Linked DNA regions of Homo sapiens: region 1 is linked to region 2. Evidence: fine-mapped QTL for protein levels in blood plasma. A gene starts in region 2. The other region holds a variant in brackets. All regions are shown on one strand. Distances are from middle to middle.

Region 1 (8,857 bases), 20 kb after region 2:
CTTTCTGGGCCTCTGAGTCTTGTCCTCCTGGTGTCAGGTGAGCCAGGCCTGAGCCTGCTCTCCCCACCCACCCACATACGTGCATGAAGGTAGTTCCCAGGGCTGAATCCGTCTTTTTTTTTTTCTTTTGAGATAGAGTCTTGCTCTGTCGCCCAGGCTGGAGTGCAGTGGCATGATCTCGGCTCACTGCAACCTCCACCTCCTGGGTTCAAGTGATTCTCCTGCCTCAGCCTCCTGAGTAGCTGGGATTACAAGCACATGCCACCACATCCAGCTAATTTTTGTATTTTTAGCGGAGATGGGGTTTCACATGTTGGCCAGGCTGGTCTCGAACTCCTGACCTCAAGTGATCCACCCAGCTTGGCCTCCCACAGTGCTGGGATTACAGGCATGAGCCACTGTGCCTGGCTCCTGTCTTTTGACTTAACTGAGAGCCTATATATAGCAGGTGATGTGCTCACATGAGATGCCAGTACAATTTCTTGAGCATCTCCTAGAGCTGGGCTGGGCTTTATCAGCTCATTGAATTCCTCCACGCTTGGAAGAGGAGGATACGCTCTCTGCATTTTACTGAGGAGGGAATGGGCTCAGCCAAGACAGTTGTCCACGGTCACACAAATTAATAGCAGATCAAGAGTTGAACCCAAGGCTGTCTGACCCCTAAGGCTTTACTACATCATCAGGGTCATAACCTGCTAGGAGTCACGGAAAAGTGGCTCCCCAACTCTGGGCCTAAATCTCTGCATCTTCCAAGTGAGAACACACTTCCTGCCTCAGCTCTCAGAGATGCTAGGGGGCCAGAGGGTCCCCCTGTTCCCCAGCGAGGAAGGTTCTTCCCTTCCTACCCAGACCTCAAGGGCTCACAGCAGCTCCTCTCTTAGGACCAGCTTTTAAGGGCAGGGACTTTAAAGGCCAGTGGATCTGGATTCAAATTTGGACATATTATCTCCTGTCTGCGAACTTGGTCTCTATCAACTGAGGCTAAGAACAGGCCCTCCCTAGAGAGATGACCTAGGAGCTAGGGGCTCCTTGTCCACCCAGCCCTGCCCCCGCAGACCTGTGTTCCTCGGATGTTTGCACAACACTCATTTTGTTTGGAGCTGAAAGAACTCAGCCTCTCTGTCACAGTCTTGAAATTCAGCTCGGGACCCAAATTTGAACATTTCTGCTCCATAAGCCAGAATCCTGTTATTCAGAGGCCTGCCCTCATGGAGAGAATGAGGGATCCCGGGGGGTTGCCCCCAACTCTCGGGAGCATCTCCACCAACTCCCTGAGAGATTTCTGGTAAGTCCACTATTCTCCATCTTTTCGCACTTCCAGGGACCTTCTTCTGCCCCAGGAAGCTGCCATTGATTTAATTCCTATTTAACTGCAAGGCATAAGCACAGTAGCACCTCCTGTGTGCCAAACACTCCTTTAAGTGCGTTACCCGGGTTAAGTTATTGAAGCCTCACAACAATTTGTAAGATAGGAACTCTATTGCCGTCATTTACAGATGAGGAGACTGAGCCGTGGTAGGTGGAGTAAGGTGCCCAGTAAGCACAGGGCGGAGGTTTGAACCCAGATAGTCTGCCCCCGAGTCCATGGCCCTGGCCATTACCCCCTGTCAGTTAGAGGTTTTGGTAAGTGA[C/T]GCCCGTAAAATGCTTAGTTCAGGGCCTAGCACACATTAATGTGCTCCATAAATGTCACTTAATGATAATATTCTTATTAATTGGAGCTTATATCTCTAAGTGGGGTGAAACCTCTTGGCTTATCTCTGCCTGGCCTTTGCCCATGTCAAGCCGCCAACTTGCCACAAGGCCCCTAATGAGGTCGTTCAGTGGGGCACCAAGATGAGATCGAACCCAGGCACTCATTAAGGGGTCACGGAGGGCTCATCAGCTGCAGCCAGGGGCTGGGAGCGCCGGGTGGGGCTAAGAGAAAGGGGAAAGGAGCCGCCGGGAGGGGCACTGGTCTGATCGTCCATTCCTCACACCACCTCTGGGCCTTGGAGATGGCGTGCGGCAGGTGCCAGCTGGAGCTTGGCCTGAAGTCAGCAGGCAGGGGACTGGGGAGTTTGTCACACTCAGATATGGGTGTCTGTAAATGCACACAAATATGGGCTAAGAATGGAAGGAGGAGGGGAGCCCCTGGCCTGAGCCCTGCTAGGCCCAATTCAGTGGCCCTTTTTCCAGCTCTGGGACTCAGGCCTGCCTCATTAACTGTCCTCACCCATTTCTCCTTCCTCCAGTTCCCAGGATTCTGGCCTTTTCAGGGGCCTCTCCAACCTCTTTCTCAGTCTTGTTTATAACCCTGTCAACTATTTCTACAGAGATTCTGAAACTGGCTGCTCTTTCCTCCGATCACTGCCCTGGTCTGGGCCACCACTGCCCCTCCCTGGTGCTGTGGCCTCCTGATTGGTCTCAGCCATCTACTCTGGCCTTCCTCTCTACGGGCCCTGCAGTGCTGTAGTTGGAGCAAGAGCCTTAACCCATGGTCTTCCCAGCTCATTCCCCAGCTTCCCCATCTCACTCAGAGTCAAAGCCAAAGTCCACACATGGGCCTTAAAGTTCTGCAAAGCCTGCATTGCCTCTCTGACCTCTCTAAGGCTCCTTGCTTAGTCCACACTGGATGTTTTTCAAACATGCCAGACCTAGGAAACAGAGAGTCTGGGTTACTTGCCCAAGGTCACACAGCCTTTAAGTCACAGAGCTGGGATTCAAACCCAGACCACTGGGCTTCAGAGTCTGCTCTTTCTCATGACACACAAAGTTTCATTTCTTCCTCTGTGCACCCCTACATGGAAAATATTATGTTTTACTGACAAGGGCACCAAGGGCCTTAGAGGGGAGCGCTCCTGCCTGGGATGATGTGGTAAATAGGGGTGGGAGATGGACTTGACCTGCAACCCCTGAGCTCATCCTCCCTCCCTCCCTGGGCTCCTGATGGTGGGCTTCTTGTGACTGTGTTGCCCACCAAGGCCGGAAGAGGACCAGACAGTGCCCCAGCACAGCAGCTGTGGCTGACCAGGGAGTAGGGATCATCTAAGAACAGAGCGTGCATGGTGGCTCACGCCTGTAATCCCAGCACTTTGGGAGGCCAAGGCGGGTGGATCACCTGAGGTCAGGAGTTCAAGACCAGCGTGGCCAACATGGGGAAACCCCGTGTCTACTAAACATATAAAAAATTAGCCAGGCATGGTGGTGGGCATCTATAATCCCAGCTACTTGAGAGGCTGAGGCAGGAGAATCACTTGAACCAGGGAGGTGAAGGTTGCAGTGAGTCGAGGTCGTGCCATTGCACTCCAGCCTGGGCAACAAGAGCAAGACTCCGTCTCAAAAAAACAAAACAAAAGAAAAAACAGAGGGTGGCCCTATGAGGAGCCTTCGCTTGTGTGGGTGGCCAGGGACAGCAAGAGGTGCCAGGGCCCTAGGAACAGCTCTTTCCTGCTTCAACTTTGGGCTCCAGATGGGCGCTTTCCAGCTCAGTCTGAGCAGCTTCGGGAAGCTGTGTCCCATGGGAGACACTGGGAGTCCCCTGTGCTCTTTGTCTCCTGTCGGGCCCCCACATTAGCTCTCTGGCCTCAGCTCTGGCTTCCCTCCAATTTGTTTCCCACGCAGCAGCCAGAGGAGCTTTCAAAAAGGTAAATTATTTCATGCTAGTCCCCTGCTTGAAATCCTACAGTGCCTTCCCAGTGCTTTCAGCCAAAGCCCCAGTCCCTTCCTAAGCCCAGCCTGGCCCTGCCTCCCTGGTGCATCATCTGCACAAATGCCTGCTCTCTGACCTCCAGCCACCCTGCACTTCCAATGCCCGCGGCTTCCTGCCTGCAGCTTTAGTACAGACCCCTCCCCTGCCCAGAACTGCCCCCACCCCAAGGCTTCTGCTGAAATGTCACCTCCTCAGAGAGGCCTTCCCTGGCTGCTCTGTCTAAACTCTGTGTTGAGAAGTTCCTTCTTGATGGTTGTTGAGGAGGGAGGCTGGAGAAGAAGAATCGAAGAGGAGAAATAGAAAGCAAAATAATTTGTTCTAGGGGACGGGCTGGTGCTGGGCACGGGGAGGCGCCCGTCTCTGGTGTGGGCAGCTGGGTAGATGGAGGAGCCGTATTTGGAAATGTGGAACCCAGGAAGGGAGTGATCTAGAGGGAGGGGAAAGGTGGCGCGAGATGCCTGCCTCTCAACAGGTAGCCAGACACATGGGTCTGTCTTGGTCACTGCTATCTGCCCAGTGCCCAGCACATCACAGGCCCTCAGTGGTGGTGTATGGGCATAGAGAATTAGAAGCTGTGGACCTCTGGATCCGGAGCTGAAAACCACCAAAGGAGATGAGTTGGCCTGGCCAGGTGTGTAAAAGGCAGAGTCTGAGAGAGAACGACCAGAGGGCAGAGCCCCCGCAGGTGGAGTTCTGGGGGCTGGAGGGAGACCATTAGGAGAATCGCACATGGCTGGCGCAGCAGGTCCCAGGCAAATGTGGCCACTGGGTTTGGCAATATGGGAGCCAGAGCCCTAGTGTCATCTCCCTGCCTTCTACCCAGCAGTTCCCAGAGTGATATCCCCAACAGTGTTTGACAACTGGTACAGGCTCTTCAGCGGCCACAGTTACTGGGCAAGGCCTTGTGAGGGTGACTTTGGGGCAGCTGGCCAGCAGTGGGAGGGGAAGCAGTCTCAGGGGTACCTGAGGCACTGAGCTCCGACCTCCAGGTGCCAATGCCGCACCAGGGCACCGTTCCCCTGCAGGCTCTTACAGGGATTAGGGGCTGGTAAGGAGCAGTGATTAGGGGCTGACTAGCAGGCTGGTGGGCACCAGCATGACCCCTTGGTGGTACCCTCTGGGCACTCATGGGGACTTGGGCTAACAGATGGGGAAGGGAGCACATTCAGGGGGCTTAGGAAACATATTTATGTAGGGAAGCATTTTAATATTTTAGTAACAGAAGCTATTAAAGGACTTACAAACTTACTTACATACACTAAAACACTATTTGGTCAAACTTCTGTTTCTTTGGCACTTTCCTCCTTTATTCTTTTTTATTTTTTTGAGACAGGGTCTTGCTCTGTCACCCAAGCTGGAGTGCAGTGGTGCAATCTTGGCCCGCAGTAGCCTTGACTTCCAGGCTCAGGTGGTCCTCCCACCTTAGCCTCCCAAGTAGCTGGGACTACAGGTGCACGCCACCACGCCTGGTGAATTTTTGTTTTGAAGGGGTTTCACTGTGTTGCCCAGGCTGGTTTCAAACTCCTGGGCTTAAGTGATCCGCCAGCCTTGGCTTCCCAAAGTACTGTGATTACAGGTATGAGCCACTGCACCCGGCCTCCTATTTTTCTGCTTCTGCTTTGTGGATAATTGGATGCTTGGACCTCCTGATTTAATCTTCTAATTTCCTTAACTGTTTACTCCTATTTTTCATCATCTTGTCTTTTTGTTCTACTTTGTGGAGGATTTCTTCACTTTTAGCTTCCAGTTCTTTTCTTACATCGTGACAGTTGCTGCCGCATTCTCTTGTAAATTTCCGAGGGCTCGTTCTTGGGTTCTGAATGTTCCCTCCTTTCAAGGATCTTCTCATCTCTTTGAGGATATTCATGTCTTTTTTGTTTTGGTTCTTAGGTTTTCATCTGTTCTCTGTGCTGTTTCCTCGGAGTGCTTTTGTCTATTCTGTTGTTTTGTCCCTCATGTTAGAAGCATTTCTTTTTTTTTTCTTTTTTTTTTTGTGATACAGAGTCTTGCTCTGTCACCAGGCTGGAGTGCAGTAGCATGATCTCGGCTCACCACAGCCTCTGACTCCCTGGTTCAAGTGATTCTCCTGCCTCAGCCTCCTGAGTAGCTGGGATTACAGGCACACACCACCACACCCAACTAATTTTTGTATTTTTGGTAGAGACGGGGTTTCACCATGTTGGCCAGGATAGTCTCAATCTCCTGACCTCATGATCCTCGCACCTTGGCCTGGGAGGCCAAAGTGCTGGGATTACAGGCGTGAGCCACCATGCCCAGCCTAGAAGCATTTCTTAATGTCTGGTGTTCTCTGGCTGTTGTATCTTAAAAAAAAAAGGGGGGGGAAACTGAGGCTCGAGGTGACCTTGTGAGCTGGAGCAGAGCCGGGATGGGATGAGGAGGCAGGAGCGTGTGCAGAAGAGAGGGAGCCCCCCTGAGCTCGCACCCTGCTTCCCGTGGCTGGGAGGGGAGGCCGAGATGCTTGGGGAGAAATGGAGGCTCCAAGCCAGAGGGGCTGTTTCCAGCACGCTCTTACTGAGCGCTGCTGTAGTCCAGCTTGGTGTGGCGGCTGTGGGCAGGGAGGGGAGAGAGGTCTGAGCTGGCTGGCGGCCCACTGGGCCCCTCCCCTGAGCCTCCACCGGCCCTCTCCCAGTGCGCTGGGCTGGGCAAGCCTCTGATGTGCCAGCCAGATGGAGGGTGAAGTCCTGATGCCTGCCCCTACCCTGGGAATTGTGATGCTGCAGTTACTGCCCCTGATAACCCCTGACTGGGCATAGGACCAGCTGGCTGAGCCAGCTCCTGGGGCTGAGGAGGAAGCCATGAACTTGACCTGGCACTTTCCTTGTCTCCAAGCATCAGTCAACCAAGGATATGGAGGGGGTGTGTGCATGTGTGCACACATACACACACACACACACACACACTTCAACCTGTTTATCCCCCTTGAGATTTGCTGACTTGTGCATTGGGGGTAGAAGGTGCTGGAAAAATTCCGGTCCTGGTTCTCAGTTTCCCCATCTGTCCAGTGGGAGCAGCTGGACTGAGAGACGCCCATGTCTCCTGCTGTGGTCCTGCAAGGAGGCTGGCGCTCCTGAGTCTGCTCCATCCTGGCCTGTCAGGCCTGCCTGGATCCTGCCCCGGGTTGGTCCACCACTCACTGTTTTGTTTCCAGGAGGAGAGGGATCGCCCTCCCAGCTAACACAGCAGAGGGGCTGCTGAACGTCATTGGCATGGACAAGCCGCTCACCCTTCCAGACTTCCTGGCCAAGTTTGACTACTACATGCCTGCTATCGCGTGAGTTGCCCCCAACCCACAGGTCCTAGGGCAGCATTGATCCCTATGACTAGGACCAGGCCTGTCCCTCAGCCTGTGGGGGCCAGAGAAGTTGCTCTGAAACCACAGCTGTCTTTCTCACCATTGTGTACACTTAGTGAGTCTCTCCAGTGCCTTTAGGCCTCAGTTTTCCCTTCTGAGATGTGGGTGTGATGGACTGAAATTGCTTCAAGTTCTACAGAGAAATGGCAGAATATGGGAGCTAAGAACACAGGGTCAGAGGCAGTGCAGGGCTTGAACCCGGGCCATCTATCTCCTAGTTCAGGGCTTCGTGTTGTGAGGGGAGGAGAGGCCTGAATATAGGGTGGGGGCGGGGAGATGTGGGGAAGATTCTCCAAAAGGCTTTTTCTTTTTCTTGTCTTGAGTCGCCAGGGAACAGCACTAGGTACCGAAAAGGCCCAGAAGGGGTATGGGCGAGTACTAGAGAGAAATTTCCATGACTGCTTTATTTATTTATTTATTTATTTATTTATTTATTTATTGAGACAGAGTCTCACTCTGTTGCCCAGGCTGAAGTGCAGTGGTGCGATCTCAGCTCACTGCAACCTCCACCTCCCAGTTTAAGGGATTCTCCTGCTTTAGCCTCCCAAGTAGCTGGGATCACAGGCACCCACCATCACACCCAACTAATGGTTTTGTATTTTTAGTAGAGATGGGGTTTTACTATGTTTGCCAGGCTGGTCTCGAATTCCTGACCTCAGGTGATCTGCCCGCCTCGGCCTCCCAAAATGCTGGGATTACAGGCGTGAGCCACTGCGCCTGGCCTCCATCCTCATCCTGAAGATGCAAGAACTTCTGGTGACCCCTTCTCCTGAGAGTGGCCTGATCTCCCCTGGGCAGGGCACTTTCTTCCCACGCTGGGCTCTCCCAGCACTTGTGTGCCTTCCCTCACACATTCTAGTAACCACTTCATTTTCACTCTTCATGGTGGGAACTTCCAGCTAAGCACAGTCCACCGTTACGTGATCAACACAGTGGCCCTGGCAGGCCAATTTGTGCCTTGCTTCTGGAACAAACATGCAGTAATAACAACGAAAATGTTTTGAGCATTTGTCCGCTCTGCTCCAAGCACTGACCCGGGTGGGGTTTATGAAGTTTGACTCATTTGTCCCCGCAATAACTCCTTGACCTAGGTGTCAGAGGGTGACTAACCAGGGGTCACACAGCAGATAAGTGTGGGCACAAGGATCCAAGTCCATGACTGTATCCCACGTGTCTCCCACATCCAGGCATCCCTCTGGACTTGTCCAGCTGTGTCCTTTTCTCTCATTTCTCTTCCCTGCCAGCCTTAACTCCATCACCAACAAATATTGGGCTACTCTGTCCTAGGCATGGTCCTCAGCTGAGAGGTCGCAGCCATCCCAAGACAGAGGGGTCCTTGCCACATGGAGACTGCATTCTAGTAGGGAATACAGCAAACTGGCTGATAAGCCATATGACACACAATGTTGAGTAGTGATAAGGACCTGGGAGAAAAAGAAAGCCCAGGAGAATGGTGGAGGGGCCGTTTTAAGATAAGGCGGTCTGGGCCAGGTACAGTGGCTCACGCCTGTATCCCCAGCACTTTGGGAGGCTGAGGTGGGCGGATCATGAGGTCAGGAGATCGAGACCATCCTGGCTAACACAGCGAAACGCTGTCTCTACTAAAAATACAAAAAATTAGCCGGGCGTGGTGGCATGCGCCTGTAATCCCAGCTACTTGGGAGGCTGAGGCAGACGAATCACTTGAACCCAGGAGGCAGAGGCTGCAGTGAGCTGAGATGGCGCCACTGCACTCCAGCCTGGGCGACAGAGCAAGATTCTGTCTCAAAAAAAAAAAAAAAAGATAAGGTGGTCAG
Region 2 (15,316 bases):
GTGAGTGGGGACTGACAAGAAACCCAGGAAGTTGAAACCTGGCTGCTCACGGGGAGCCTTTAGGACAAAGCAAATTGCAGAATCTCAGGCTCAGGGATTGGAGGGACCAGAAATCTCTGAAGACCAAGTGGTGTCAGGTAGGGCAGAAGACAGAAGGGTGGGTTGGTTATCAATCTGGGAGACAATTGGATGTCCAGGCCTCCTACCCCAGCTGGCACAGGCAAGATGTGACCCCACCCCACAATAACACGAGGCCCACCCACCGGATAGGCTGGATGAAAAGAATAATCTGAGATGATGTTTGCTATGGTTTGAATGTGGTTCCCCAACAAGCATGTGTTAGAAACTTAATCCCCAATGCAACAGTGTTGGCAGGTGGGGCCTCATGGGAGGTGTTTAGGTCATGGGGGCTCCACACTCATGGGTGGATTAATGCTGAGTATAAAAAGGCTTGAGGCCGTGAGATCAATCTCTTGCTCCCTCTCTTACCCTCTCGGACTCTCTCATCTTCTACCATGGAATGATGCAGCAAGAAGGCCCTTGAATGATGCCAGCACCTTGATATTGGACTTTCCAGCCTCCAGAACCATGAGCCAATACATTTCTGTTCCATAAAAATTACCCAGTTCCAGGTATTCTGCTATAGCAGCACAAAATGGACTAAAACAATGTTGGCACAAGACTCAGTGCTGGGCCTGGCATGCAACAGGTCCTTGGTAAGTTGTCTCTATGATTATACTCAGGCCTCTTTCTATCTTGCTCTCTTATTTTCTTCTCCTGGTCAGAAAGAGGCTTAAAGACATATGATATGGACAGCAGAATCTGGCTTCCTGGTAACACTCTTTCCACCTATCCATATACCCTCCTCACCTACCAGGCTATTTGATGTGGCAGAAATGAGCAGCCTTCTAGATCTACTATCCTCTAATTTTTTTTTTCCCCCAATACGGAGTCTTGCTCTGTCCACCCAGGCTGGAATGCAGTGGCACAATCATGGCTCACTGCAACCTCTGCCTCCCAGGTACAAGCAATTCTCCTGCCTCAGCCTCCCAATTAGCTGGGATTACAGGTGTGCACCACCGTGCCCAGCTAATTTTTGTATTTTTAGTAGAAACGGGGTTTCACCATGTTCGTGAGGCTGGTCTCGAACTCCTGACCTTGTGATCGAACACCTCGACCTCCTAAAGTGTTGGGATTACAGGCATGAGCCACTGCAGTGGGCCTACTATCCTCTTCTTTAGTAACACAATCTCCTTTTTTTTAGCTGGGTACCTTGCCTTACAGGTATAAGACATTTCCTAGTTTCCTTTGCGATTAGATGTGGCCATGTGACTATATAAGCAGAATTTGTTGTGAGGAAAACCAGGTATCTAGATCTTTAAAAGACAGAAGTGGCCAGGCGTGGTGGCAGGCGCCTGTAGTCCCAGCTACTTGGGAGGCTGAGGCAGGAGAATGGCGTGAGCCCCGGAGGCAGAGCTTGCAGTGAGCCAAGATAGTGCCACTGCAGTCCAGCCTGGGCAAAAGAGTGAGACTCTGTCTCAAGAAAAAAAAAAAGAGAGACAAGCACTAGCTGCTGCATCCTTTCCTCAGCCCTGCTCTCTGGACTGCAGATGTGAAGGCTGGTGCCCCAGCAGCCATACTGCACAATGAGGATAGGGGCTGGATGCTAGGGATGGCAGAGCAGAGAGATAGAAGGAGGCATCTTCACAGAGTTGTCACATCAGTGGCATTGCCTGCCTCTGGCCTTTTTACACAACAGAGAAATAAACTTCTGTCTTTTTTCAGCCACTATTATTTGGGTGTTTTCTGTTGTGTGCAACTGATCCTAATCCTGTCTGATAAATGTGAGTGAAAGGGCAACCTGTCCCTTGTCCTCTTTCTTATTCAGAGATCTTAGAAGATCAGAATCAGCAGGGACCTTGGCTGTGTGGGGCAAAATCTGGCCCACAGATGTTTTCTTTGGCTTATACAAAGTTTTAAACATTAGGACACATTTGAATACAGTTTAAACATTAAAAGATGGGTCTCCGGCTTTTTTGGATGATTGGAGGATCTGGCAACACTGGATTTATGTTTCAGCACAGCAGCATCTTGACGAGGCATTTGCTCTCTCCTTTCCACAATCCCCACCTCTCCCATTGTGTGAGGATGTTCTTCTCCTCCTATGAGCGAGGCGTGTCTATGGTTTATCCTATTAATTAGTATGTATATGTTATCCCCACTACACAGATGAGAAAATCAAGGCTCAAAACAACTTTCCCAAAGCCACAGAGCTGTAAGTGGTGGAGCTGAGGCTCCTGATCATATACATTTTGATCTTGATTTTTATTTATTTATTTGAGACAGAGTCTCCCTCTGTGGCCCAGAGGGATTCTCATGCCTCAGCCTCCCGAGTAGCTGGGATTACGGGTGCATGCCACCATGCCCGGCTAATTTTTGTATTTTTAGTAGAGATGGGGTTTCACCATGTTGGCCAGGCTGGTCTCAAACTCCTGACCTCAGGTGATCCGCCCGCCTCGGCCTCCCAAAGTCCTGGGATGACAGGTGTGAGCCACTGCGCCTGGCCTGGAATAGATCTTGAACTAGATTTTTCAGGAGGGCTACATTGGAGGTAGAGAGACATTCTCAAACATACACAATCTCTGTTGTCTTCTCACAGGAGTGGCGTGCTGTGTGGATAATGAATATTGGGGAAGGCATCTCTCTCCAGCCCCTCTCAAGCTTTCTGTAGTCACTGGTCCACTCTGTATTGCTATGAAGAAGCTCAAGACCAGCCTGTATCACTCGGGGTCCTGGCAGGAACCAGGTGCCACACTCAAACTGAGTAATTGAAGAGGGTTTAATATGGGAGTTATTTACATAGGTGTGGGCTGGTGTAGCTGCCCATATGCCCTCAAAATCACCTCTACATGGCAATAGCTACTTACTGCTAACAGAGTCTCTCTCTCATTGCTGCAAATATTTTCTAGCCATGCAAGAAACTCAGCCGGTCATGTTGAACAAACTAAGAGTGCCAGGAAGTTAATGTCCTGGAAGCATTGCCAGAGGGGAGGGGGCAGTTAGATTCCCCAGCTTCCTCGCTCCTCTGCTGGGTTAAGCCTGCAACATATTCATCATCTCCCAGAGTGCTGCCCAGGGATAGAGCTCCAGGTGCTCAGTGTGGTGACCTGCTCATGTCAGCTTCTTCCCCTTTCCTGTCTTGTTTCGCACCCACATCCTTCCCATGTTTCCTCTTCCCAAATAAACTACTTGCATTGAAATCTTTGTCTCAGGCTCTGCTTCTGGGGAAACCTGAACCTAGCGAGGAGAGTTTAAGGAAAGCAACAACGGGTGGCGTGGGACTCTGGTAACAAAGGGAACCACTGCCTTTCAAGAAAACGGCAGGAGGCCAGGCACGGTAGCTCATGCCTGTAACGCCAACACTTTGGGAGGCCAAGGTGGGTGGATTATTTGAGGTCAGGAGTTCAAGACCAGCCTGGCCAACATGGTAAAACCAAGTTTCTACTAAAAATACAAAAATTAGCCGGGCATAGTGGTGGGTGCCTGTAATTCCAGCTACTCCAGAGGCTGAGGCATGAGAATTGCTTGAGCCCAGGAGGTGGAGGTTGCAGTGAGCTGGGATTGCACCACTGCACTCCACCCTGGGCGACAGAGTGAGACTCTGTCTCAAAATCAATCAATCAATCAATAGGCAAGAGGGAATCTGGAATGGGGAGGGTATGGAGAGGTGGGCCAGGAGGACTGACAGGAGATGTGGCCTTGGTAGAGAGACACAGTCAGCCCAGTGACTGTGCACCGAGGGAAAGGGGGAATGAATATCCTGACCTCTCTCCTCTCATCTGCTGTTCTCCTGCTGGTGCTCCCTGTTGACAAAACCCAACCAGAGCCAGAGGGCAGGAGAGCCCATTGGTCTCACCCACAGCAGCATGGCTGCCGGACACAGAGGAGCAGAGCAGCGTGCAGAAGGGTGGAGAGTGCACCTGCAGGGGCAAACAGAAGAACTGCATCACGCAGCCTGGCCCTTTGGATCTGACCCATTTGGAATGCAGAATTTTGATAGTCTAGGATCTGGGTAAAGGGTTTTCCAGGTGTCAGGATGGAAGTGACTAAGGTGCAGAGGCTGGAGGGCTGGGGCAGGTAGAAGCAAGCATTCCTGTTACCTACTGCTGTGTGACAATCTCCCCCTAAAACACAATGGCTTAAAATAACATCCATTTCATTACATATCTCAATACTATAGGTCAGGAATTTGGGCTGGGCTTACTTGGGTAATTCTTCTGTCCCACATGGCATTGACCAAAGCCTGGTTTTCAGTGGGCAGCTGGGCTGGATGGCCCAACACAGCTTCGCTAACATGATTGCTGTCTTCGTAGGGATGGTGGAAGCCTGGGCTCAGTGGGACTGTCAACTGGAATGGCCATATGTGGACTCTCTTAGCATGATGGTCTCTTCTAGAAGCTTGGGTTCCCAGAGAGAATGTTCAAGAGGCCCCAAAGGACACCACAAAGCTTCTTTATGACCAAGGCTCGGAAATCCAGGAAGCTTGCTCCCATCACGCTCTATTACTCCAACAAGTCACTCAGGCCAGCCCAGGTCCAAGAGGAGGAAACCTAGACTCCATCTTGCAATGTGAAGAATTGCAAATAATTTGTGTCACCCTTAAGCAACCAGCAACTCATCTAGGTTGATTGGCATTTCAGCAATGTGGTGGGAAGTGGTGGGACTGATGTTGAAGAGGGACTTGAATGTCATGAGAGGCTGGGGAGGCAATAAGGTGGGGAGTGAAGTTTCTCGAGTCAGATTCAAATTTAAACCCCAGTTTTGCCACTTACAACCCATGAGCCAAGCAGGCTGTCTCTCTATCTGAACCTCAGTGTCCTCATCTGTAAAATGAGGAGAACACCTCCTACATCTGAGGATGACTGTAAAGATGAAATGGGATGGGTGCTTATAAAGTGCTTCCCAGTGTACCTGGCTCCAAACCTGTCTCAGTAAATGGCAGCCCCTATTATTGAACCCGAGTAACACAGAGAGCCAAGAAAGGATCTTACAAAAAACTCCCCTGGCTTTGACAATGTATGAGACCCACTGATAGGGTTTGGCTTTGTGTCCTCACCCAAATCTCATCTAGTAGCTCCCATAATTCCTACATGTTGTGGGAGAGACTCGGCGGGAGATAATTGAATCATGGGGGATGGTCTTTCCCATGCTGTTCTTGTGATAGTAAATAAGTCTCACAAGATCTGATGGTTTTAAAAATGGGAGTTTCCCTGCAGGCGCTCTCTCTTTGTCTACTGCCATCCATGTAAGACGTGACTTGCTCCTCCTTTGCCTTCTGCCATGATTGCAAGGCCTCCCCACCATTGTGGAACTGTAAGTCTATTAAAGCCTCTTTCTTTTGTAAATTACCCAGTCTCAGGTATGTCTTTTTTTTTTTTTTCATGAGATGGAGTTTCGCTCTTGTTGCCCAGGCTGGAATGCAATGGTGTAATCTTGGCTCACCACAACCTCCACCTCCCAGGTTCAAGCGATTCTCCTGCCTCAGCCTCCCGAGTAGCTGGGATTACAGTCATACACCACCACGCCTGGCTAATTTTGTATTTTTTTTTTTTTTTTTAGTAGAGACGGGGTTTCACCATGTTGGTCAGGCTGGTCTCAAACTCCCGACCTCAGGTGATCCTCCTGCCTTGGCCTCCCAAAGTCCTGGGATTACAGGCATGAACCACTGCGCCCAGGCTCGGGTATGTCTTCATCAGTAGCATGAAAATAATGGACTAATACAGCCACCCTCTCCCTCACTCCCACATACAACCAAACCCCAAATCCAGCTGATTTTACACCCTAAATGCAGCTTGAATATGAGTTTCTCCACTTCCCCCACTGACATCACTATGCCCTACCCAGACCATGGCAGTTGCCTCCTTCCTGGTATCCTGTCCTCCCTCACCCCCGCTGGCCCCCTGTAATGCCCTCCCCTCACAGCAGGGAGCCCAGGCTTCTCAAAGTGCCCTGTGGGTGCGAACCACCTGGGGGTCCTGTTTGTATAAAATACAGATTCTACTTCAGTAGGTCTGGGATGGGGTCTGAAAGTCTGCATTTGTAGTCAGCTCCCAGGTGATGTGGGTGCTGATGATCCCTGGATCACACTTTCAGTAGCTGGAGAATATTTTTTCCAAATAAAAGGGTGATTTTGTCTCGCCTCCACTTAAAACACTCCACTGACTTCCTAGGAATCCCACACCATCGCTGGGTCCCACATCCCTGGCAGGATTCAGCTCCCATCAGACCTTCTAGCCCCTTGCTCTCCACTCTCCCACTCTCTCTTTCCCCCTTGTTTATGGGTTTGTTAATTTATTTATGATGAAATGAAATGAAGCTACCATCCACCCCAGTACTGGAACATTATCAATAACCTGTGTGTGGCCAGGCGTGGTGGCTCATGCCTGTAATCACGCCTTGGGAAGCCGAGGTGGGTGGATCATGTGAGGTCAGGTGTTCGAGACCAGCCTGGCCAACATGGTGAAACCCCGTCTCTACTACAAATCCAAAACTTAGCAGGGCACGGTGCCACGCGCCTGTAATCCCAGCTACTCGGGACGCTGAGGCCGAGAACTGCTTAAAATCCAGGAGGTGGAGGTTGCAGTGAGCCGAGATTTCGCCACTGCACTCCAGCCTGGGCGACAGAGCAAGAGTCCATCTCAAAAAAACAAAAACAAAAACAAAAAAACAAAAAACAAAAATTAGCCAGGCGTGGTTGTGGGCGCCTATAATCCCAGCTACTCGGGAGGCTGAGACAGGAAAATCGCTTGAAACGCTGGGGGTGCGGGGGAGCGGTGGGGAGGAGGCGGGCCAGAGGGGCAGAGGTTGCAGTGAGCCCAGATCGCGCCACTTCACTGCAGCCTCCGCGAAAGAGCGAAACTCCGTCTCAGTAAATAAATAAATAAATAAATAAATAAATAAATAAATAAATAAATAACCTGTACCCGCGTGTTATTTCCCTCCGTCCTTACCTCCTCCCGGCTCCTTCCCTTTCACCTGAGATAACCACTCTTCTCGTATCTATGCTCATCTTTCCCTTGCTTTACATTTTTTCCACCGATGCATGTGTCTAAACATACATACTTTTGGTTTTGCTTTTACACATTCTAAAAGTTGCACCATTGTATGCAGTTTTCCGCAACTTAGTTTTTTTCACTCAACATTGTTTCTGAGACATTGTTTCTGTTGTTGTCTGGCTGAAGTTCATTCCGTTTCACTGCTGTCTAACGTTTCATGGTGTGAATATTCCGGTTTATTTGCCCACTCGCCCGTGGAGGGGCATTTGAGGGTGTTTCCAATGTTCCTGTTATTCGGAATAGCGCTGGTGTGAACATTCTGCACAGGTCTCTGGCTGCGCCTGGGCGGGTTTCTTAAAGGTGAATGCCCAGGAGGGGACTGTCTGTGTTCTCCCTCCCTCCGAGCTCCAGCCTTCCTCGCCTCCTTTCACTCCCAGCTCCCTGGAGTCTCTCACGTAGAATGTCCTCTCCACCCCCACCCACCCCTGATGAACTCCTGCAGGTTCTGCAGGCCACGGCTGGCCCCCCTCGAAAGTTCCTTAACTATACAATTATGGTGTGTGTTTCTGCGACGAGCGTCCGTCTATCCGGTGGAAGGCACGCCGCTCGAGGCTTGCGATGCTCCCGGGGTCCCCGCTTCTAGCTTGGGCCTGGCGCACAGCAGCGCCCAGACTGCAGGGGGACGCTTGAAAGTTGCTGGAGGAGCCGGGGGGAAGGCAGCGCCCAGCGAGGCGGCTGGAGCGCGCGCCCACAGGTGGGTCCGGTCGGGCGCCGCGGGGCCGTAGTTTTCGGGTCGGCGGGCGAGGACGCCGGGTCCAGAATTCCAGGAAATGCGCGATCCAGGCCGGCGGGCGGGGCGGGGGCTCCGGCGAGAGGGCGGGCCCCGGGAACGGCGGCGGGCGGGGCGGGAGGCGGGGCCCGGCCCGTTAAGAAGAGCGTGGCCGGCCGCGGCCACCGCTGGCCCCAGGGAAAGCCGAGCGGCCACCGAGCCGGCAGAGACCCACCGAGCGGCGGCGGAGGGAGCAGCGCCGGGGCGCACGAGGGCACCATGGCCCAGACGCCCGCCTTCGACAAGCCCAAAGTGAGCGCGCGCGGGGGCTCCGGGGACGGGGGTCCGGCGCCTGGGCGGCCCGAGGGGCTTAGCGGGGCCCAGCCCGGGGCGTCCAAACCCTGGGAACGAACGGGGGCTCCTGCAGGCGAGTTCTTCCTTCGGCTTAGGCCGTGGCTTGCTTGCGGGCTAATCAGGGACAATGGGGCAGAGAAGGTCCAGAACCCGGAGGCCTCCAGAGTCTGCTTCTGCCCCTGACTTGACCCCTCTGGGTCTCAGTTTCGCTGTCTGTCAAGTGGGCATCCTAGCACCGCTGAGCGCTGTGTGGGCCTGGGCAGGGACTTGAGGTCTCTGAAGCTCAGCTGTATGATCAGGCCCGATGTCTACGCCGGATAGGCACCTAGTGCTGTGCCCGGCGCCTACTGAGTGCTCAGTGAATGGAAGCAGCTTTGTACGCCAGCGTTATGGTGGTGAGCGCCAAGGAGCTCAGGTTTGTGGATGCGCCCCGGGGAAGAACCGTGAGCCCTGCCAGAAAGGGGAGGGAGGGGAGCAGAGCACCCCCCTTCCCCCGCGCGGGAAGAACAGGAGCTAGGTAGGCCCTGGGTTTGGGGCCCTAGCAGGGTTCACTCGAGGCCAAGCCATGGCCACTGGCCCCAGGGGAGAATCCCCTTGTTTCTCCGCCCACCAGCTGTGGCGTCTTGGGACTGTTGGGGTCAGGGAGGGTCTGGACCCCCTTGGCCTGTCGCAGAGTCCGAGAGGAGGGGCCCAGGAGTCTGCCAAGCAGGGTGAGTCAGCCAGTAGGGTGTGAGAGTGGTTGGGGAAGGAGTCAGCTGCAGTCAGCCTCAACTTACCCTTCTAAGAAATAGGTGTGAGTGGCCCAGGAGGTTGGCTCACGCCTGTAATCCCAGCACTTTGTGAGGCTGAGGCGGGAGGATCATTTGAGTCCAGGAGTTTGAGACTAGCCTGGACAACAAAACTAGACCCCGTCTCTCCAAAAAATAAAAAAAGTTAGGGGAAGTGTGTGTGGTGGTGCACTCCCGTAGTCCCAGCTACTCAGGAGGCTGAGGCGGGAGGATCGCTTGAGCCCAGGAGGTTGAGGCTGCAGTGAGGTGTGATGGTGCCACTGCACTTCAGCCTGGGAGACAGAGCGAGACCCTGTCTCAAAAAAAAGAGAAGAAAAAGAAAAGAAAAGAAATAGGTGTGAATGATGATGACAGCTATCACAAAAGTGCCGGTGAGAATCCAGTGAGTGTGCATGTGTCAGTGAGGGAGACAGGCTGTGGAGAGCCCACCTACCTTCTGAGGAGGGTGAGGCCTGGCCCCCACTACTGATGCCCCCAGCCCAGGGAAAATGCTCAGCTACTCCCCGTCAGAAGCTGGAAGCACTGAGGTGCTGTACAAGCCCTCCTACCCCCACCCCTGCCTCCTTCACGTCTTACTGGAGCTGGGGCCCATGATTGGCGCCTCCCCTTTGCAGTCTTTTTATTAAATGCTCTGGGCTCCCTCTGCCCTTGGGCTGGGGACCCACTGTACCCTGATGTGAATCCTATGGCAATAGCAAAGCTCTTTGATTGGCGGGGTGCAGTGGCTCACGCCTATAATCCCAGCACTTTGGGAGGCAAAGGTGGGTGGATCATGAGGCCAGGAGTTCGAGACCAGCCTGGCCAACATGGCAAAACCCCATTTCTACTAAAAATATAAAAAATTAGCTGGGCATGGTGGCGGGCGCCTGTAGTCCCAGCTACGCAGAAGGCTGAGGCAGGAGAATGGCATAAACCCAGGAGGTGGAGCTTGCAGTGAGCCGAGATCTCGCCATTGCACTCCAGCCTGGGTGACAGAGTGAGACGCTGTCTCAAAAAAAAAAAAAAAAAAAAAAAGGCTCCTTGATTGCGAACATGTTGGGAGTTATGGAGAGAACAGCAGGGCCCACTTCTAGAGCACTTGTTGCAGACACCCATTGGATCCTTGCAGTTCTTCTGTAACAGCCCATCAAGGGAGGGGCTCATATTATTATCCCCATTTTTTGGCCTTGCTCAGTCCTCCCATCTGATTCAAGCTGGCAGATCATTTTCCCTATTGGGACCTCAGTGTCCACACCTGGAGGATGGAACATCAGCTGCTTATGTGGGTGTCCCGTGTCCTGAGTCCCAAGGCCACAAGGTGATGCTTGAGAGTGAAGGTAGAATGTTACCTGCCATGTGTTTGAGGCGTGACAAATCTTGTATGATTGTGAGGAGGAACTTGTGTGAGCTGGCAGGAGAAGTGGGAAGGAGTGTGAATCTCAGAGCCACTGTGACCAGAGCCAGCTCCCTGCCCTCTTGTGGGAGGGACAGATGACAGTTATAATTATTAGCATTACTAGCTGCAGCTAATGGAGTGTTGATGTTTCTGTGCCAGGCACCGTTCTAAACACATTATCTGCATTTTTTATTTAATCCAGGCACAGAGAGGTTAACTAGGCCCAAGATCACACAGCTAGGAAATGTCCAATCTGGGGTTTGAGTCCAAGGGAGGCTGGCTTCGAAATCCCATGCCTCTAACCATCTTTCCTAAACTACCTCTGCAGAAGCCTTTGGGGATAGAGGTGCCAGTGCCCCAGGTGCAAACCTCCTGAGACAGGAGCCTTTGCTGTGTCCTTCAGCTTCTCATACCTGCCACCAGCTGAGGCCTGGGACCTGGTCAGCTAGAAGAAAGCAGAGCAGGGCAGCGCTTTTCAAACTGCACTCAAGTGGCCTGACTTTTAATGTTCACACTGTGATTCTGTGTGGGTCGGGTTGGGGCCTGCGATGCTGCACTGCTGACCAGCTCCCAGGAAATGCTAATGTCAACGATCCAGGAACACACTTTGCTTAGCAAGGCCCTAGGCAGCTGCCTTCTGTTGTGCGGGACCCCTATTGACTCCAATGGATATAGCACCAGGTTCAAGAGGCTACCTTCTTTGGAAGAGGTAGCAAACAAGATACGGGGTTTTACTGGGGGCTTAGACACAGGGAAGAGAGTCCAGTGGCGGCAGACTGAGCAGAAGAACCGCAACCACTTGCAAATCATGCAGTTTATGTAGCATTTTCATTTAACACCTTCTCCCAACCATCTCCACCTAGTAACCTTCATTTAACCCAAAACAAAGGGCCTCGGTCCCTATACCCCTGTATGGTCAGTGTCCCGTGGGAATGGGGTGGGGCTCAGATGTTCCTCATAGATAACGACTGGATCTCCAGGTTGGCCACTCTTGGATTCCTTCGCTCAGAACTCTGAACACCCATTCAAGTGTGCCTGCCATGCAGGGTCATCGTCAGGGGATGCCCAAGTCAAGTTTGCCCTGTCGGGTGTGCCTCCCATACCCCCACCTGGTTTGACTTAGCACCTGCTGGGCACTGGAAGAAGTGGAAAGGGGGGTTGCAGGGGTGGCCCTTATCAGCCTATGTTCACAGGTGGCACCAGGCACTCAGGCATTCTGCATCCTGGAGGCCAGTGCTGATCACATGCCTGTTACAATAATCATAACAATAGCTGTCCTTGAAGTAGTCCTGGGTACCAGGTGCCTTCAGTGACTTTTTCTTTTTTGCCAGAATCTCACTCTGTCGCCCAAGCTGGAGTGCAGTGGCAAGATTTTGGGTCCCTGCAACCTCTGCCTCCTGGGTTCATGCGATCCTCCTGCCTCAGCCTCCCAAGTAGCTGGGACTACAGGCGTGTGCCGCAGTCTCACTCTGTTGCCCAGGCTGGAGTGCAGTGGTGTGATCCTGGCTCACTACAACCTCCACCTCCCGAGTTCAAGCCATTCTTCTGCCTCAGCCTCCGGAGTAGCTGGGATTACAGGCGTCCACCACCACGCCCGGCTAATTTTTGTATTTTTAGTAGAGACAGGGTTTCACCACGTTAGCCAGCTGGTCTCGAACTCCTGATCTCAGGTGATCCTCCCACCTTGGCTTCCCAAAGCGCTGGGATTACAGGTGTGAGCCACTGTGCCCGGCTAGTAACTTTTATCTCACGGAATCCTCTGGACGACTTGACAAGGCATGGGTCTTCATCCCCATTTACAGATGAAGAAACTGAAGCTTAGGGAGTGGAGGGACTTGCCAGGGCTACACAAAATCTGAGAGCCTTGAAGCTGTAGACTGGCAAGTGAACAGGTACAGGCTGGGACAGCAGTTTCTTTCTTTTTTTCTTTTTTTAGACAGAGTTTCGCTCTTGTTGCCCAGGCTGGAGTGCAATGGCACGACCTCGGCTCACTGCAACCTTCGCCTCCCAGGTTCAAGTGATTCTTCTGCCTCAGCCTCCCAAGTAGCTGGAATTACAGGCATGCACCACCATGCCCGGCTAATTTTTTGTATTTTTAGTAGAGACGGGGTTTCTCCTTGTTGGCCAGGCTGGTCTCGAACTCCCGACTTCAGGTGATCCGCCCACCTCAGCCTCCCAAAGTGCCGGGATTACAGGCATGAGCCACCGCACCCGGCCAAGGGACAGCAGTTTCTAAACTGTCCCTCTCTGATGCAGAGGGGAATTGGGGCTAAATCAGCAATGTGCCTTTTCTGTCTCATATTTGAATGTCTACTCTGCACGAGGCGCTGTCCTGCTTTGCATACAGTGACTCATTTAATGTTTATGTCAGCCCTCTGAGGAAGGTCCTGTCCTATTATTAACTTCACTTATTATGAGGAAACTGAGACTCAGAGAGGGGAGGGAACTTGCCAAAGTCACACAGCTGGCAAGCAGCAGAGCTAGACTTGAACCCAGATCTGCCTGCACTCAAGTAGAAGCTGTTCATTGCTTTGCTCATTTGCCAATTCCACTTTATGCAAAAAAGAGGGGGCAGTGTGGGGGGAAGAGTTAGAATCAGGGTGGCAGGGTGGGCCAGTGCATTAGCCCTGGGCTTCAGATGTACTGGGGTTGAATTCCTGCCTGCCGCTTAGCAGCTAGGGTACCTCAGGTAGACAACTCCTGAAACTCAGCTTCCCCCTCTGTAAAATGGGGTGACAAAACCAAGATCTTGGGGTTCTTGGGGAAACTGACATGCTGATTGGTTTTTGTACAGTGCCTGGCTGGTAACAGCAGGCCCTCAGGGGTGCGTTTCCTTCCTGGGGACTGGAGTGGGGGTTGCAGTAGACTCTGGGAGGCCTCTCCAGCTGCAGAATCTCCCTCCTCCCTCCTCCTTTTTGTCTTCCTGACACAAAACCCACCAGCTGCACTTCTTTGGGCTTGCAGTGGCTTTCAGTTACCAGAGCCACCTGTTAAAACAAAAATGTGCCTAGGAAGAGCCTGCCTTACCCATTTTGACTCACATGGCAGTTGGTGGTGGAGGGGAACAAAGGAGACTGAGTTTCATCGAAGCCTTTTGCTTCGGAGGAGGAAGGGAGGATCAGAGAGAGGAAGTGGTCTGTGTTCACACAGGGAGGCAGGGGAGGCCAGGCAGCTTCCCAATCCTGCATTCAACCTCAGGGTGGGCTTGACCTGGGTGGCTGGGGGCCCTGTGATCCAGGAGAGACTTGTCCACCTGCTCAGGTGTCTTGAAGGGGTCCCTGTGGTACCCCCTGGGGCGGGGCAAGGTAGTAGGACCATGGTCTGGCTGGGGAGGTGGAGAGGAGCAGGCTGTGGGCGCAGAGTGAGGTTGGAATCTGTATTTACCCAAGGTGTTGGGGGTAGGCTTGCCCTCAGCCCTTAATGTTCTCAGGCCCCTGAGCAGTTGTGGGGGATAACCTCTGCACTCCTAGTGACCAGGGAGCTAGAACAGCAAGGAATTTGAACTTGGACACCAGCTGGGGTCAGGCTCTCTGGGTCTGAGTCCTGATTTCCCACTTTCCAGCTAGAGGAGCTTGAATGAGTCATTTAACTTCACGGTGCCTCAGTTTCCCCTCTCTAAAATGAGAATTATACCCATACCCACCTCTCAAACACCAAGTGCAGGCCTGGCTCAGAGCAGGTGCTGCAGCAATAGCTGCCATTGGTCAGCATCATCATCATGGTTGGTAATGGTCCTACTTTGACTTTTGAGACAGAGTCTCACTCTGTCGCCCAGGCTGGAGTGCAGTGGTGCAATCTCGGCTCACTACAACCTCTGCCTCCCGGGTTCAAGTGATTCTTCTGCCTCAGTCTCCCAAGTAGTTGGGATTACAGGTGTGCGCCACCATGCCTGGCTAATTTTTGTGTTTTTAGTAGAGACAGGGTTTCACCATGTTGGCCATAACAATGGCTGTCCTTGAAGTAGTCCTGGGTACCAGGTGACTTCAGTGACTTTTTTTTTTTTTTTTTTTTTGAGCTGGAGTCTTCCTCTGTCACCCAAGCTGGAGTGCAGTGGCACGATTTTGGCTCACTGCAACCTCTGCCTCCTGGGTTCATGCGATCCTCCTGCCTCAGCCTCCCAAGTAGCTGGGACTTGGGATACACTTGCCCCCGCTGGTCCTCCCTTCCACCTCTGTGAAGAGGAGGTCTCAAACTCCTGGCCTCAAGTGATCCACCCACCTCAGCCTCCCAAAGTGCTGGGATTTCAAGAGTGAGCCACCGCACCTGGCCCCTGTTTAGATGTTAGCATCAGTGACCCAGCACCTTGCTATGTGGCATGCAGGGAGCGTGCTGCTAGACCTCCGGGTTTAGAGTCAAATAGCTTCCTGGCTGTGGTATGCATTAGACTTTCTAACTCAAGGTCCTCCCACTCTCTGAGCCTCAGTCTTGTTGCCTTTAAAACGAGTTTAAGTGTGCTGAGTCCCTATGCTGTGGCTCCACAGGAATTTCCCCAGGTGGAAGACACATCTTGCCTTCTGTGAAACCTCTCAGCAGCAGAGCTGTCAGGCCCCGTCAGCAGGAGACACTGTGGGGACTGCTCAGTCCCTTCCACTGTGTACCTCGGAGCTGGCGGAGCCTAGATGAGGCTGAGCATAGAGGGCTTCCTGGAGGAAGTGGAGCTGAAACAGTTTCTCAGCCCAGGGCTGCTCTGTCTCCTGGCCTCACACTAAAAGTCAGTTGAGAGGCCATAGTGGCATAAGTCACTGACCCTGGCACTGCCCAGCTCATCACCAAAAGCAGGGCTAGGGAGGGAGGGGACATTCGATTGGCAGTGGGCACCTGTGGCTCATCTGGGTTCTGGCCACGGTGCTCAGGTTCTGTGAGCTGACCAGGCAGCCCTGGCTCCTCTGCCCCCGTGTGGGTTCTGCCAGGTCCCATGGGGGCAGGTCAGCCCCTTCCTTGTTGCAGGGAGAGCACCCAGCATTGCTGACATGGG

Evidence for each region. PIP is the posterior inclusion probability: the model's chance that the variant is causal. The UK Biobank Pharma Proteomics Project read protein levels with antibody pairs (Olink). The fine-mapping took linkage between variants from a reference panel, not from the people measured, so its PIPs are less certain.
Region 1: its variant is fine-mapped to the plasma level of the ADA protein (UK Biobank, PIP above 0.99).

Annotation. Positions count from the first base shown.
Region 1 is chr20:44,627,170-44,636,026 of GRCh38, reverse strand. It overlaps ADA (adenosine deaminase), which reads left to right. Exons shown (of 12, transcript NM_000022.4): 3 at 6,858-6,980. Among named protein-coding and RNA genes, the nearest start is that of ADA, 20 kb to the left of the region's middle. RefSeq lists a cis regulatory region at 1,282-1,431 and enhancers at 1,549-1,878, 1-2,769, 5,286-6,035, 6,036-6,786, 1-7,023. The variant C/T (reference allele first, on the strand shown) is at 1,632.
Region 2 is chr20:44,644,395-44,659,710 of GRCh38, reverse strand. ADA (adenosine deaminase) reads left to right here and starts at 8,012. Exons shown (of 12, transcript NM_000022.4): 1 at 8,012-8,136. The coding sequence starts at 8,104. LINC01260 (long intergenic non-protein coding RNA 1260) reads left to right here. Exons shown (of 5, transcript NR_034104.1): 4 at 530-716; 5 at 2,660-3,260. RefSeq lists silencers at 7,814-8,203, 11,676-11,844, 13,721-13,800, enhancers at 7,240-8,223, 8,454-8,563, 11,153-11,653, 13,042-13,557, 13,491-13,590 and 2 more and cis regulatory regions at 12,402-12,997, 13,381-13,408, 14,097-14,655.